Regions from separate parts of the Homo sapiens genome. Here region 1 is linked to region 2. Evidence: fine-mapped expression QTL. A gene starts in region 2. The other region holds a variant in brackets. All regions are shown on one strand. Distances are from middle to middle.

Region 1 (8,342 bases), 45 kb after region 2:
CCTAAGCTTCAATTTCCTCTGCTATAAAATAAGGATAAAAGTACCTTAAATGGTGGTTGTGAAAATTAGAGACAATGTAAGTTGAGTACATAGTACAGTGCTTGGCACAGAATAGGTATTTGGTAACCCTTTCCCCACATGAGTTTTTTAAGTTTCTGTATTTACTTTAAGGCCCTTATTGTATGCAGTCATCCATGAGTATATGCAGGGGGTTAGTTCCAGGGCTCTCTGAGTATACCAAAATCTGTGCATACTCAAGTCCTGCAGTTGGCCCTGTGGAACCCGAATCTACGAGAAGTTGACCCTCCCTATACGTGTGTTTTGCTTCCTGAGAATACTGAAGTTTCGACCTACATTTGGTTGGAAAAAACCCTCACTTTTAAGTGGACCCAAGCTATTGAAATCCGTATTGTTCAAGGGTCAATCGTATTTCACTTTGAAGGACTGGTCCTCAGCAAGTTCATCTTCTGAACTACTCAGTGATGCTCACACTCAAGAAGACCATATCTTATTAAGTGGTTAGTTTAGAAGCTCTTTCCCATGCAGATTTGCAAGCGGAGTGTGTAAAAATCACACATTGCACTTGTTGCCTGGCAGCACGTGTCCCTGAGTGGTAGTACATGGCTTGCATTGTAATGTTATCAGTGCTGGGGCCAGCTGGCTAGACATGTACTGCTACATGGGCTAGGGACTCCATTCCTCAACAAAACAGCAGCCAGCACTAGGGTTAACAGAAAATGACAAACCAGGAATGGATGAGGGAGGCGCCAGCACAGCAGCGGGATGTCTTTTGATTTGCTTCTGTTATTTGCATGTCTCTCTTGTGATGTCTGTGAAATGTTTAGAATGACAAAGTTTTTAAAAGACCTGCTGACTCCGCCTGAAAAATGTGAAAAACCTCCCATTTAGAGACCTATTATGTCCAGCTAGCCTGCATTTTCTATATCTTTTTCTTTATTTTTTATTAATGCAAACATTTGCATGAAGACAGAACCTTTGTTTCTTAAAGAGTTCATCTGCTCCTGCTGCTTACTGGCCCTGCCATGCAAGAGCACAACAGAACCTTTGTTAGGCTTTCAGCAAAGCTGTTTATGAACGGTGGCTTACTGAGGACTGCTTCCTGTGCTGTGTGCTTCCATTTTGTCTAAAAAGAAAAAAAGAAAATAGTTATTAGGAGTAAAAAGAATTTGGACTTTCTTTTATTCAAGTCCTGGATGTTGAAATGACAAGTAGCCCCCAAATTTGTGAGGAACTGGTAATTGCATCGAATGCATTTTTTCGCTTTACCTTGAACATAATGAGGCTCTTAGTAACAATAGAAGGAACAAGTGCCTTCTCATTGGAATAGAGAGAAGGAACAGTAGTAAAAAGGCAACAGAAAGAGTAGTTGAGAACAGGACAAAAGTGGCTTCCAGTAAGAACACTAACATTGTAATAGAATGTGTTTTGATATTTAGCGTTTCCCACCTGGGAGGCACAGTCCTAAAGTGGTTGAGTTGAATAAAGAACAGCATCACAGTTTATAAATAGTGGATACAGTTTGTATGTTCATTAAGTAAATATTTGAATGTCTACCATGTGAAAGACACTGAATGGTCCTGAGTGTTAAAGGAAATAAAAGATAAATGAGTCATGGTGCCTATCTTTAAGGATCAGGACATCCAACAAAGAAGATAACATACGCATAACAGAAATAACTGTGTATCAAGGTAGAAAGTGCCACTGGAAATATTTAAAATAGATGTTTAGGGAGTTTGGGAAAAGGGAAGATCACTTCTGGCTGGGACAGAATCAGGGAAAGGTTCACAAAGAAGGTGGCATTTGAGTTGGGCCTGGCAGAAAAGGTAGGACTGAACATTGCAACATTCCTAAAAGTGATGAGTCAAAAATTATGTTGTTCTAGTAAAACAGATCCAAAGTATGTTTTTATAGGGTACTTTGGTGGTGTTTTTATACCATTAATTTAGATGATATGTTAAGTGTTATGAGTTTTCTGTGTAGACTAAACTGGGGCCTCTCTGTCTAGTCTATGTTGTTCCAACCATTTGCCCCATACGGTTTTTGTGCACTTTGGCCTAGGCCTTTTTGTATCTATAAATATCTACAATAGCATCCTTTACTTTCATAACAAAAATAGAAACTCAAAGGGATTATTGAGCACTATTACAGCTATATCCCATAAACAGTATGTGGAGATAGTTCTTAGTGGGGATTTCACATGTGAGACTCTTATTTGAAAAAGAATCCCCACCTTCGTGCAGAGCCACATCAACCACAAGAGAGAGGACAGGGAATTCTAAGCCCGTGAGTTTTCAGTTACTTTAAATTAGAACTTTTCTGTATCTTTTTGTCATTAGAAAAAATGAGATCCTGTTACTGTTAGTTCAGTTGTGAATGCCAACTAATTTTTATGTAATATTTTTAATGTAAAATGCCAAGCAAATGATTAAGCTGTTGTATTAGTATCTTATTGCATTAATATCACTATTCTGTATATTCATAGTTAAATTGCATATTACCAATTAATATTAATCTGTAAATTTAATGATAATTGATAAATACATGGTTTGCCCCCAAAGGCTATACTTTTTCTTTTTTTTAAAGAGACAGGAGTCCTACTATGTTGGTCTTGAACTCCTGGGCTCAAGGGATCATCCTGCCTCAGCCTCCTGAGTAACTGGGACCATAGGCATGCATCACCATGCCCGGCTGCAAGACTACAACTCGTGCTATAGCACAATTAATTTTCACCTTGTAATTTTATTACTTCCCTGTTTGAAAACATGAGTGGCATATGATTTACTACATGTTTAGCAATTTACAGGATTTTTTTTTTACCCATGATACTTTCTGGAAAATAGTTATGTGAATGTTTATGGCGTTGACTTGATAACTATACTGCTTTATTAGTAACTATTTTTGCAAAGTTATTGCCATGACAAATATTACTTGGGTTCTTCATATGTCCCTTAGATTGTAACTGTGGGAAACTTAAGTGCTACTTTAGATTTCTCTGGTGTTCAGGAAGTACATTTTGTTATGGTCAGCTAGCTGAGTGCTTTAAGTTTGAACTATGAAAATCTCCTTAAAAAAAAAAAGGACGCGGTGGCTTATGCCTGTAATCGCAGCACTTTGGGAGGCCAAGGCAGGCGGATCACCTGAGGTCAAGAGTTTGAGACCAGCCTGGCCAACATGGTGAAACCCTGTCTCTACTAAAAGTACAAAAATTAGCTGAGCATGGTGGCGGGCGCCTGTAATCCCACCTACTCAGGAGGCTGAGGCAGGAGAATCGCTTGAACCCTGGAGGTGGAGGTTGCAGTGAGCCGCGATCACGCCACTACACTCCAGCCTGGGTGACAACAGCGAGACTCTGACTTAAAATAAAAAAGATTCTGTAGTTTCTGGCACTTGAAATTGCAGGACTCCAACCTACAAATGCTGTATTATTATGAGATTTAGGCTGGAAATACTGAGGCAGTAGGATTTAAGCACTTACCCTTAATTGACATCCCAAAACTATATATAAAACAAACAAACAAACAAAAAAACAAAAAAACCCACCAGTTTTAGGAAAGAGAAGGGAAGAGGGGAGGATTAATGGTTGACCAGAGACTGTTTTGAGTGTCAAGGCACTCAGCTTTTCACAGCTATTAACCAGTACAATACCCCTTTTGGTTGAGGGAAATAGACTTTAGTTTTTCATCCTCTACTTAACATAAAGATCTTTAGACACCTCTTGTTTTCTGGTTGTCACAGGTGATGTTAGCATATGTGTAATGCTTTGTTTGCCTCTGGCGTGTCTTTTAGTATTTGAGTTTGA[C/G]TAGCCGTATAGCAGGACTTTAGTGGTTTGGATGCATAGATGCAATGTATTGCTTTTGTCTGTTTTATAATTAACAATTATAAAATAAAAGGTCATTCCTTAATTTGCAAATTTGTTCTCAGAAAGTTCTGTTTGATACATGTCATACTGCATGGCTCTTTAAAGGTGGCAGTATCATGCAGTACAGACTGGAATATAGGATAATAGGCTTATACACTTGGAGTAGAGAAGGCCTTTTTGAATAGGACACAAAGCACACCAAAAAAAAGCCACAGATACATTATTTTGACTGTATCAACACTTAAAACTTCTGTAAAATGAAAGATACCACAGACAAGTTAAAAGAAGACCATGAAGTAGATGTATGTATTTGTGACATGTATAGAATTATCTACAAGTCAAGAAGAAGAAAAAAAGACAACCAGAGAAGAAAATTGGCAAAGGATAAGAAATACAAATAAACATGAAAATGTGCTTAACTTTATTTGTAATCAAGAAAAGTAAAATTAAAACAACAGAGAAAAGCTATTTTCTAACTATTAAATCGGCAAAATTAAAAAGCATTAGGCCAAGGATAGTGAAAATAGATACTCATACAGCTGGTGGTGTGTAAATTGGAATAACTAATTTGTAAAAGCAATTGTCTATCTCTGGTAAACATGAAGATATCCTGTGCATCCTATGAAATGCCAATTCCATCTTGAGGAATCTACCTTAGAAAAACTCTTGCACATATATACAAGGAAACACGTACAAGAATGTTCAACACAGCCCAGTTTATTATAGTGAAAACATGGAAACAACCTAAATGTTTATCAGTAGGGAAATATTTACCATTGGGAACTATCAAAAAGGTAAGTAGGTTCCATATTGTTTTATAAAAGATCTCCAGACATTGTTGATTAAAAAAAAAAAAGATGCAGAAAGGATATATCAGACACTTAAAAACAACTTAAAACATGAAAACAGAACAAGCTCACAAACTATATTTCTGTATTTTTGAAAATATGTACCCCAAACTGATAATAGTTGTTATCTATGGGAACTGGAATTAGTCTTTAGCTTTATCTGTATTGTTTGAACCTTTAAAAATTATTGTGTGTTTAACTAGAAATAAACATTTTTAAAAATTTAAAGATCATACCAGTACTTTGATTTACCAATTTAAGCTTCTTAATACTATAAAGTATTAACAGGGAAGAGCCAGCAATTTCTAGATAATACAACGTAAGATGGGGCACTTTGTAGGTTTTTGGATTTTTCTTGTTTTGCTTTCATTTTTGGTTTTGAGAGGTAGTGGGGTGAATGGAAGAATACGGGCTTTGGAGTCAAATCTAAGTTTGAATCCAAGCTCTGCCATTTATTTAGACTTTGGGCAGGTTTCTTAACCTCTCTAGTTTTTAAAAAAATTGCTATTACCTACTTCGTTGGGTTGTATAAGAATTACATGTGCTAGATTTCCTCATTTCCCCATTCCCTTTGGTTAAGGGAAATTGGTCTAGTGTGGTCTAAGATCAAAGATGGTCTCGTATGGATGACAAAATGTTTCACAAGAACACACTATATCCTTGGACCAGGATATACCAGTAAAGATGGAGGATGTAAATAATAAATTTTAGAGGTCTATTAACTGTTTAAACCATTAAGCTATCTATTTGTACCTCACAAGATCAAATACTAGATTATGTTAGTGATTTATAAATGATATTGAACTTGAAACTTCTAAGCAGTTTACATGACAGGTTGTTGATTAACAGGTTTACTTTTTTTTTTAAATCTCAGAGAACATTTTAATTTAGTTCAGCAAACATTTATTTGTGCCATCCAGCATCTCAATCTCAAGAGGCCTCATAGACCAAAATATGTCTCAAAAGGAAGAAAGGAAAACTCTATGTATTTATCAATTTATTTATCAAACTCTGGCAAGGGGGGAAAAAGTCAGGTTTAAAGTTGAGTATATGTATATACTCTGCTTTTCACTTGTACTGCTATTGCCTATGTGTGCATCTGTTAATATCATATATAGCAATTCATATGAAGATTTTTTCCAGTGAGACTTAGTTATTCTATTATTGGGACTCTGTATTAAATAATAATTTTTAAAAAAGAGTGCTCTAACTAATGTTAAGGTGGAAATTCTAGACCCCTCAAACAAAAATTTCCAAATAGGACCCCTTATCATTTAATTGTGAAATAAACAACTAATGCTTTTATGGTATTTATGCTTGGGAAGAGAATAAAATAAATAGTTTTGGATTTTCCCCATATAAATTAGGGCCTGCTGAGTAATTAGCAGTTAATAAGTGAATGCTTCCTACAAGTTTAAAGGTCATACCTGAAATGGGTATATGATGATGTATATTTTTATAGTTATAGATTTTATATAGCCCAAGAATCCTTGAAGATAGTCTAAACATCTTGGTTTGATGAGCAGAACTTTCAATAAGGGGGTAAGGGGCTAATATTGTTTGAGCACTTACTATGTGCCAAGCACTATTCTAAGATGATTACATAGATTATTTTATTTAATCTTCACCACAGTCTTCTGTGGTAGGTACTAGTATTGCCCAATTTTATAGAAAAGGGCAGAGAGATAAGGTAACTTATATGAAGTTACACAGTCAGTAAATGACAGAGCTAGAAATCATATCCAGGTTCAGTTGGCTCAAGAACCCATATTCTTAACCATTGCAGTAAAAATTGTTATGCTGTTTTAATCTGTAGAGTCAGCATGTAGCAATAATAATATAATCATTAACATGTTACATTTTGCATATATTGAATGCTTTCTAAAGAAGTAGTTTATTATCAGACATATTCTTAGAATCATACCCATTTTATAGCAGGATTGACAGTGTTATAAAGAGATTACGTGATCAACATGGGGTGAGTCAACAGAACCAAGAAGTTTCTGATCCACAATTGCCTTCACTTGCTAGGTTCAAGTAAGGATCATATAGTGTTTACTTACATTTGCCTTAGATTTTTCAGTATAGCATGATGAAATTCTAAATGCTTATCTCAGACAGTGATGCTATCTGAGCAAGACATGGACAATTGGGCATTAGTGTGAATTTTAGGACACTAGAGCGTAGGTACAGGTTAGAAAACTTAATCCTCATCTTGTGGAAGTCATGGCAAAGCCAAAGAGGAAAAGCCTGTCTTAAATGCTTTTCCTTTTCCAAGGGGCAGCTAAGGTGCCCAGATATCTTTGCCCTCCAGGGATGCAGGTGTGCTGTTTTTTATTCTTTAATCATTCACATAAATTAAAGCCTATTCCTTTGCATTAAAAAAAATGTAAAATGACACTCTCCGTGTTTTATTGCCAGGCAAGAGCTTTGAACTTCTGTCTCATTGAAGTTTGATAAACTAAGGATTTTCCCGTGTTGGGTGGTACCCTTAACCACAGAGGGAGCATTAGACTGATAAGAGCTGCAGGTGAAGGAAACCACCAGGGCACGGCAATTAGGGAGAGCTTCGCACTTGGCTGTTGGCTGGTGTAAAACTCTCTGCAGGGAGGAACTTTTCTTCTTAGCTTCTTCCCTTCACCCACACGTAAAAAGAACACCAGGGCTTTCTATTTCTACTTTGCGAACTAGGAATGGATGGGATGGTTCTTTTCAAGAAACTTTCAAATTTAGGGACAAGTTCTAACTTCACACAAATGCTGATTGGTATGAAGGTGGGGGGACAGGACAGACAGACATACACACACATAAATTCACGTGGACCCAAATGGACCATATCTCTCAGGTGATTTTACTATCAACATACATTCCTGCCTTTGTGCACTGTGTAAAATAAAGATAATTTTTACTTCCATAACTGATTATAAAGTGTTAATGGTGAGGCAACGTGTTAAGAGAATGGGTTCTTGTATCAGGTAAACCTTGGTTCAAATCTTGGCTTCTCTTCCCACTAGCTGTGTAAATTAATTTTGTAAGTCTCAGTTCTCCCACTTGTAAAAATAGAAGTCTAAGAATAACTATTATAGGATTGTATTTGGAAGAAATAGAATAAAGCATGTGAAACAATTAGTACAGTACTATATCTGTCACATTGTTGTTTAATAAATTGTGCAAGTACTCAAAAATGGTAGCTGTTATTATTTGTAATATGAAACTAAATATCTGATTGGTAGATTAATGTTAAACATGCATGGTCCAATATATTTCTTTCTTTCCTTTTTTATATTTTTGGTATAAAGTCTATTTTCTTGAAAATTCCTGCTTTTTTTTTCTAGAAGGACAAAAGTACTTTGATTTTTACTGCTCTGAAAATATTTATCCCGTAAAAAGCTTTCACATTAACTTTGAGTCCCTGGAGCTAGGGAGGAGAAGCAGCAGGATTTGCTACTAAGTAGAGCTCTTTCATTTCTACCATCAAAAAGAAAAAAAAAAAAAATCCTGTGCTAGCCTTAGGTAGAGCTAAGTCATAAAAGGCCATATAGCCTAAGGAAGGACTCTTTTTATAAGATCAGGATAAACCGATAGAAGAAAGGAAGGAGAACACAGAGGTGAAA
Region 2 (8,342 bases):
TAGGAAGAATTTTTTAAAAAGACATAAATGGTTATAAAAGTGCATACTAGCTGGGCGCGGTGGCTCACGCCTGTAATCCCAGCACTTTAGGAGGCTGAGGCGGGTGGATCACCTGAGGTCAGGAGTTCGAGAGCAGCCTGACCAAAATGGAGAAACCCCGTCTCTACTAAAAATACAAAATCAGCCAGGTGCAGTGCGCATGCCTGTAATCCCAGCTACTTGGGAGGCTGAGGCAGGAAAATCTCTTGAACCCGGGAGGTGGAGGTTGCAGTGAGCCGAGATCACGCCACTGCAGTCCAGCCTGGGTGAAAGAGCGAGTCTCTGTCTCAAAAAAACAAAACAAAACAAAACAAAACAAAACAAAACAAAACTGCATAGTCTAGGACAGAAGAAGGCATAACTAATTTTTGTGGGCTACCAAGAATCAGTAAATCATCCCCCCTTTCAAACTATATGAATGTGTAATTTGCAACTCTTATTGCAGCATTTGAAAACATAGAATAACAAGAAAGTACAGTCCATAATTACCTTTGAACTTCAGTTCAATTTACGCCATATCCCCTTAACTAGTTTCTTACAATGCATTAGTTATTCTTAACTGCCCAAGAGTTTGTGAACATTTCTTTTCTTTACAAATTACTCCAAAGCTCTGGTCCATTGGCTTGTGGCAGTACAAAATTACCTTCTATAAATAGCATTTTTAATTGAAACATATGAATCCCAGACAGTGGCATCACACTTAGTTTCTGCTGTGCTCTTGTGGAAGATAAGCCTTTCATGCAGAGCCTAGTAGCTCAGCATGAATTTCATGACCTGCATTTCTTAGTAGCTACTTTGCCTTTAGCATCTTTTCTGCTTGATCAGTTGATAAAAGCTTGTCCTAGTTTCTTGAACCTGTTTTATAGCAATAATTCAGCCTGCATTTATTCTTTCCTTATTGCTTCCTTGAAGTTTAAAACTGTTTAGTGTATTCACCGTTTGCTTTTCTATAGTCTTCAATTATAGGGAGGATTTTCTTCCCTATCAATCTCTTAATAGGTCTTCTGCAGAGCCAGAGATGTCTATTAATTTTCTCATTATAAAATCAGAAATTATAATCTGATAAATTGATGTCTCAGCTGGGTGCAGTGGCTCATGCACTTTGGGAGACTGAGGCAGGAGGATTGCTTGAGCTCAGGAATTCGAAACCAGCCTGGGCTACCTAGCAAGACCTTGTCTCTACAAAATTAAAAATATTATCTGGATGTGGTGGCATGCACCAGTGATCCCAGCTACTCAGGAGGCTGAGGTGGGAGGATTACTTGAGCCCAAGAATTCCAGGCTACAGTGAGTTGTGATTGTGCCATTGCACTCCAGCCTGGGTGACAAAGGGAGACCTTATATATACTAAAAAACAAAACAAACAAACAAACAAAAAACAAAAGGTGCAGTGGCTCACACCTGTAATCCCAGCACTTTGGGAGACTGAGGCGGGTGGATCACTTGAAGTCAGGGGTTCGAGACCAGCCTGGTCAACATGGCGAAACCCTGTCTCTACTGAAAATACAAAAATTAGCCGGGTGTGGTGGCACACACCTGTAGTCCCAACTACTCGGGAGGCTGAGGCAGGAGAATGGCTTGAACCTGGGACACAGAGGTTGCAGTAAGCAGAGATTGCACCATTCCACTCCTTTCTGGATGATGGAGTGAGCCTCTGTCTCAAAAAACAAACAAACAAAAACAAAAACCATCTCAATATATTCTCTCTCTTGTTTTTTTCTTATTGTTCTGAATTTGATGTTTACAGTCGTCATGCTGTAGTACTGCCTTTAACATCCGATGCTCTATTTATCATCAATATCTTATCACTTGCCTCTTTTCAGGATTATGGAGTTGTCTTCTGACTTACCGATTTACCTCGGTGATTTTTTTTTTTGGTAAATTTTTAAGAAATATATTATGATAAGTTAAGAACCTGAAAAGTCAATTTAAATCAAAGGCTGACATTTTTTTTCTTTCTTTCACATTCAAGTCACAAAAAATACACTTAATTTTAACAACTCTTATATATTTCTACTCTTCTTAAGACTGATGTAGTGTATGTTTCATTGAAAAATTTCACCAATAACCAATGTGTTTCAAAAATCTATTATCATGTAATCTGTGACAGAAGAGAAATCTAGCAGTGGCTTCTTTTTGGGAAAAACAAACACTGTCTGGAAGGTCATCACATCTGCTTAAAAAATTTTAAAGATTTTCAGGCCACTCATTTATTATTTGTTTTCAGGTTATAATACATGCCTATTATAGAAAGTTTAAGACTATAGAAAAATATAAAGAAGAAAAATGTAAACAGTCAGTAATTCCACTACCAGTAAGGCCACCTGTTATTTCGGTGAAACTTCAAATTTTTGTGAAGCCTTACTCTAGCAACCTCCTACTTTTCTAAGTCCTCCTCCTCAATAGACTGTTCAGGACATTCAGAGTGGAAGACTGACTTTGAATACAGGGGTCCTTCGGATTTTTATGGAAGGGATGGAACTGTAGGAAAAACCTACAAATTGCTCCAGAGATGACATCTTGTTCTTATTTAGCCTTCTTTGAGTCATTAACAGTCGGGCGCCACTGGTGCTGAAACTTATCATTATTATAACCACAAATGGGTTAATGCCCAAACAAAGCTATATTCTTGGGGCTGGTTCCCAGCTCCACCACACAGACCCCAGCAGCCAGCACCCGCCAAGTCCCAGGATAATGCTCCACAAATAAGACGATGTCAAATGTTCAGCCTGGACTCAACATTATCTTCTTCTATCTGGGAGCTTCCAGTTGCTAGCAGGGCAGAGCAAAAGGAAAAATAAATAAATAAAAGCCAGGTCAACAAACCCTAAAAAAAGAGACTGTGTGGTTTAGTGGTCAGACCACTGGCCTGGATGTTGGGATAGCTGAGATCCAGTTGTAGCTCTACCACTATGTGGCTGCATGATGCTAGACAAGTCACTAGACAAGTCACTGTTGTGACTTGTGCCTCAGTTTCCCTAGTTAGAAAATGGAAAAGTGCCTTAGAAAGGTTTTTTTTTTTTTTTTTTTTTTTTTTTTGAGACGGAGTCTCGCTGTGTCGCCCAGGCTGGAGTGCAGTGGTGCGATCTTGGCTCACTGCAACTTCTGCCTCCCCGGTTCAAGTGATTCTTCTGCCTCAGCCTCCTGAGTAGCTGGGATTACAGGCGTGCGCCACCACGCCTGGCTAATTTTTGTATTTTTAGTAGAGATGGGGTTTCTCCATATTGGCCAGGCTGGTCTCGAACTCCTGAACTCGTGATCCGCCCACCTCAGCAGAAAGTTTTTATGAGGACAAATAAGATTATTTGCAAATAGCTACAAGTTGCTTGGGAATAAAGTAAAATTATCACTTAATAATTACTATGGTATTACCTTATTAATAAAATAGTAAAAAGCCACAGTTATGGAACATATGAACCTCCCATAACCTCAAGCTAGATGGGGGAAGCAGATAAGAAGGCAATTAAAAAAAAATCAGATTTGCTGGACTTCACACCAAATACCAAATTAGTAAATTTGCCTCAAGACACTAAGCCCTGCTCCTACTTTGGCTCTGTCCTTTTAACCTCACCACATCCAAACTTAGAGTGACTCACAGGAGCCTAGAATTGAGACACATATACAATTTTAAGGGAAAGCAAGAATTAGGAGGTTTGAGGCTCCTTACTGGAGGACGCTAAGAATAGGCCACTCGGAACACAAAGAGAAGAACCTCCTCTTTCCTTTTCCTCCCAGTGTAGGTGGTCTACTGGTTTCCCAGTCATTCCTTTGATAGCTTGATTTTGTTTTCTTTGTCTCTTTTTCACAAACCTCACCTTGTTGGAGGGGGAGGGCACTAAAAAAGTGAGGACAGAGTGGCTTTTTCTGCTATGTCTGAACTGTGTCTAGTGCTACAGATCTCTGACCTGTTGTCAGGAGTGGAGAGGGGCGAAAAGAAATATTTAGGAACTTGAAAACCAGTGAATATTCTCTTAAAGAAGAAGTGAGCAATTGGGCATATAGGGAAAAAAATCTAACTGGTGTCCTCGTTTCTGCAGCCCCTCTCCCTCAAGAAGAGCAATGTCTTGGTAGGAAAAAGGAAAGACACCTGGGAAAGGTACCAAATAGTAAGGGCTAGGAATAGAAAGAAGAACCAAAGATAAAAAGGAATTGAGCCTGGGCGCGGTGGCTCACGCCTGTAATCCCAGCACTTTGGGAGGCCTGAGGCAGGCGGATCACCTGAGGTCGGCGGATCACCTGAGGTCAAGAGTTTGCAGACCAGCCTCGCCAACATGGTGAAACCCCATCTCTACTAAAAACACAAAAAATTAGCCAGGCGGAGTGGCGGGCGCCTGTAATCCCAGCTACTTGGGAGGCTGAGGCAGGAGAATCGCTTGAACCCGGGAGGCGCTGGTTGCAATGAACCGAGATCACGCTACTGCACTCCAGCCTGGGCGACTGAGTGAGAATTGAGAAGAAATGGCAATTAGTTCAGAGGACTTAATGAGTACCTTTTGTGTGTCCAGCCGTCATAGGCAGAAAAGACACATCTCTGACCTCTAGAAGCATCCAGGGTATATGCATACGTAAGCACTTTGTAGCAATTTAAGATAGTAAATACCAAAGAGATAAAAATAGCTAATGGGATACTAAGTGTTTATGGGGGCCAAAGGGCGGGGGCTATTACTGAGTTAGGATAAACAGTGTATAAAAGCAGGGATAGTTATGAAATTCAGAAACTGCGTATATGGGCGGCTGACAGTAATTCTTCGACACTGGGAAACATAACGGATTCAAAAGAATTCTTCATCTCAGATTCCTCTAAAACCAAGTCTTCAAGAATGGGAGTCCAAAGAAACCTGGACCATCGTGAAGCGACTGCCCCCGGAACTTGAGTGGCCAGCTCCACTTTGCGACACGGAGACTGTTTGTGTGACACCTCCTCCAGCTCCCGTCCCCCTTCCGCCGCGTGGGTGCCATGGCAACGGAGAGAGACGGCAACCTGGGTTCCGGAAGCCGGAGAGCTGGAGCTTTGAAGCCACCCCGGTCAAAGGATGCTGAGTCCGGAGCGCCTAGCCCTACCGGACTACGAGTATCTGGGTAGGAACCCCCTTTAACTTTGGGGAGGGAAAGACGTGCAGACGAATTAGGCCAGGGTCTGGGAGGAGGCGGGGGCGGGGTCTGAGTGGGATCGGGTCCGGGTGGTATGGGGAGGGGCGGAGAGGCGGGGGTTCCAGGGCCTGAGCCTGTAAGGCCGAGCAGGAAGGAAAAAAGCACCTGGGAAGTAAAGAATGTTTGAAGTGTAGGGGCTGGAACTCAGGCAATGTGGATTGTGTTCAAATGGGTCAGGTTGGCGTTGAGGATTTGGGGCCCTGTTGGGGTATTATTGATATGCTGGTAGTGGAGTAAGAATAACCTTGGAACCTCAAGTGCCAAATCAGTCAGCGAACATTTCGAGCTTTTCTTTTTCATTAGGCACTGTGCTAAGCATTTTTCATGCATCATTCTTCATTTGAATTTCTCAACAGCCCTAGGAGGAATTACCGTGTTTTCTTCCAGTTTTGCAGGTGGAGAAACTGGGGCTGAAGAGGTAACTTGCGTTAAGTTAGGCCACACAGCTAGAAAATGGTAGCGCTAGGATCAGAACCGGATTTGCCCACTCCAACAGAACTTGAGATATTGACTTGGCTCTTGAGCTAAGACTGTATATGTAGTACTTTGTTGAGCATCTTTAGTGTATAAGGCATTTAATGAATGAAAAAAGGCACACACACGCATAGATATGTACACACACACACATATGCACACAATACACATTTTATTTTATTTTATTTTTGAGACGGAGTCTAGCTCTGTCGCCCGGGCTGGAGTGCAGTGGCGCGATCTTGGCTCACTGCAAGCTCCGCCTCCCGGGTAGCTGGGACTACAGGCGCCCGCCACCTCGCCCGGCTACTTTTTTGTATACTTAATAGAGACGGGGTTTCACCGTGTTAACCAGGATGGTCTCGATCTCCTGACCTCGTGATCTGCCCGCCTCAGCCTCCAAAAGTGCTTGGATTACAGGCGTGAGCCACCGCGCCCGGCCACAATACACATTTTAAATAATTCATAGACTTTTATTTTTTTAAAGACGTTTTGTTTTGTTTTGTTTTGTTTTTTGAGACAGAGTTTCTCTCCTGTTGCCCAGGCTGGAGTACACTGCAACCTCTGCCTCCCGGATTCAAGCGATTCTCCTGCCTCAGCCTCCCGAGTAGTTGAGATTACAGGCATGCGCCACCACGCCAGGTTAATTTTATATTTTTAGTAGAGACGGGGTTTCACCATGTTGGTCAGGCTGGTCTCAAACTCCTGACCTCAGGTGATCCGCCCACCTCGGCCTCCCAAAGTGTTGGGATTACAGGCGTGAGCCACTGCACATGGCGAGAAGTTTTAAGTTTACAGAAAATTGAGCAGATAGTACGGCGAGTTCCCATATACCTTGGGTCTCCCTCACTCACAGTTTCCGCTATTATTTACATCTTGCATTAGTGTGGTACATTTGTTACAATGGATAAACATATATATTTATAATATATAATAATATATTATATATTATTATTATTATATAGATATATTATTATAGATACATATTATTAACTAAAGTCCATAGTTTACATTAGGGTTCTTTGTGTTGTTCAGTTCTGTGGGTTTTGATAAATGCATGTCATGTATTCACCATTCCATTATCATACAGAATAGTTTCACTGTCCTGAAAAATCCCCTGTGCTCCACCTATTGATCCTTCTCCCTCCCCCTGCAGCCCTTGCCAACCACTGATCTTATGGTCTCTAAAGTTTTGCCTTTTCCAGAATATCATGTAGTTGGAGTCATACAGTGTGTAAATTTTTCAGATGGGCTTCTTTAACTTAGCAGTAAGCATTTAAGTTTCCTCCATGTCTTTCTGTGGCATGATAACTCATTTCTTTTTATTTCTGAATAATATTCCATTGTATGGATGTACCATGCACATCTTTTTTTTTTTTCTTCTTCTTTTTTTTTTTTTTTGAGACAATGTCTGGCACTGTCACTCAGGCTGGAGTGCAGTGGCACTATCACGGCTCACTGCAGCCTCAACCTCCGGGCTCAAGTGATCCTGCTACCTCAGCCTTCCAAGTAGCTGGGACTACAGGCACATGCCACCATCCCTGGTTAATTTTTTAATTTTTTGTAGAGAAAGAGTCTCACTATGTTGTCCAGGTTGGTCTTGAACTCCAGGGCTCAAGCAAGCCTCTTACTGTGGCCTTCCAAAGTACTGAGATTACAGGTGTGAGTCACTGCACCTGGCTTACATCTTTTTTTTTTTTTTTTTTTTTTTTTGAGATGGAGTTTCACTCTTGTTGCCTAGGCTGGAGTGCAATGATGCGATCTGGGCTCACCCCAACCTCCGCCTCCTGGGTTCAAGTGATTCTCCTGCCTCAGCCTCCCTAGTACCTGGGATTACAGGCATGCGCCACCACGCCTGGCTAATTTTGTATTTTTAGTAGAGATGGGTTTCTCCATGTTGGTCAGGCTGGTCTCAAACTCCTGACCTCAGGTGATCCACCCACCTCGGCCTCCCAAACTGCTTGGATTACAGGCGTGAGCCACCGCGCCCAGCCAACATCTTTTTAAATGAAAAACAATTCTGGTTTACATTTTGTTTAACTTATTTTAAAAATTAATTTTAAAATATTTTTTAAGGTTGGTAATATGGAAACTTGATTCAAAGTATTTTTTAGGCCTGGCATGGTGGCTCATGCCTGTAATCCCAATACTTTGGGAGGCTGACGTAGGAGGATTGCTTGAGGTCAGGAGTTCAAGACCAGACTGGATGATAGAGTGAGACCCTGCCTCTAAAATGCATAGATAGATAGATAGATAGATAGATAGATAGATAGATAGATAGGTAGATGTTTTTAGTGAAAAGCCTACCCCTTTGCCTCCATCTGCCCAGTTTCCATCCATCCTCAGCCTCCCAAAAGTAACCACTATTATTGTTTTCCTGTGTATCTTTCCAGAGTTTATTATATACATAAAGGAGTATACAGTGCATACTTTTTCATTTAATACATCTTGAAGTAATTTCCGTTTCTTTTGTTTTTTCTTTTCTTTCTTTCTTGAGACAGAGTCTCACTCTGTCACCCAGGCTGGAGTGCAGTGGCACCATCTCGGCTCACTGCAACCTCCACTTCCTGGGTTCAAGCCATTCTCCTGCCCCAGCCTCTCAAGTAGCTGGAACTGCAGGCACGAGCCACCACACCTGGCTAAGTTTTTGTATTTTGGGTAGAGATAGGGTTTCTCCATGT

Evidence for each region.
Region 1: its variant is fine-mapped to the expression of CSTPP1 in whole blood (INTERVAL, PIP above 0.99).

Annotation. Positions count from the first base shown.
Region 1 is chr11:46,976,537-46,984,878 of GRCh38, forward strand. All of the region lies in intron 1 of CSTPP1 (centriolar satellite-associated tubulin polyglutamylase complex regulator 1), which reads left to right. Among named protein-coding and RNA genes, the nearest start is that of CSTPP1, 44 kb to the left of the region's middle. The variant C/G (reference allele first, on the strand shown) is at 3,821.
Region 2 is chr11:46,931,734-46,940,075 of GRCh38, forward strand. It overlaps CSTPP1 (centriolar satellite-associated tubulin polyglutamylase complex regulator 1), which reads left to right and starts at 5,028. Exons shown (of 9, transcript NM_024113.5): 1 at 5,028-5,118. The coding sequence starts at 5,073. RefSeq lists an enhancer at 4,886-5,095.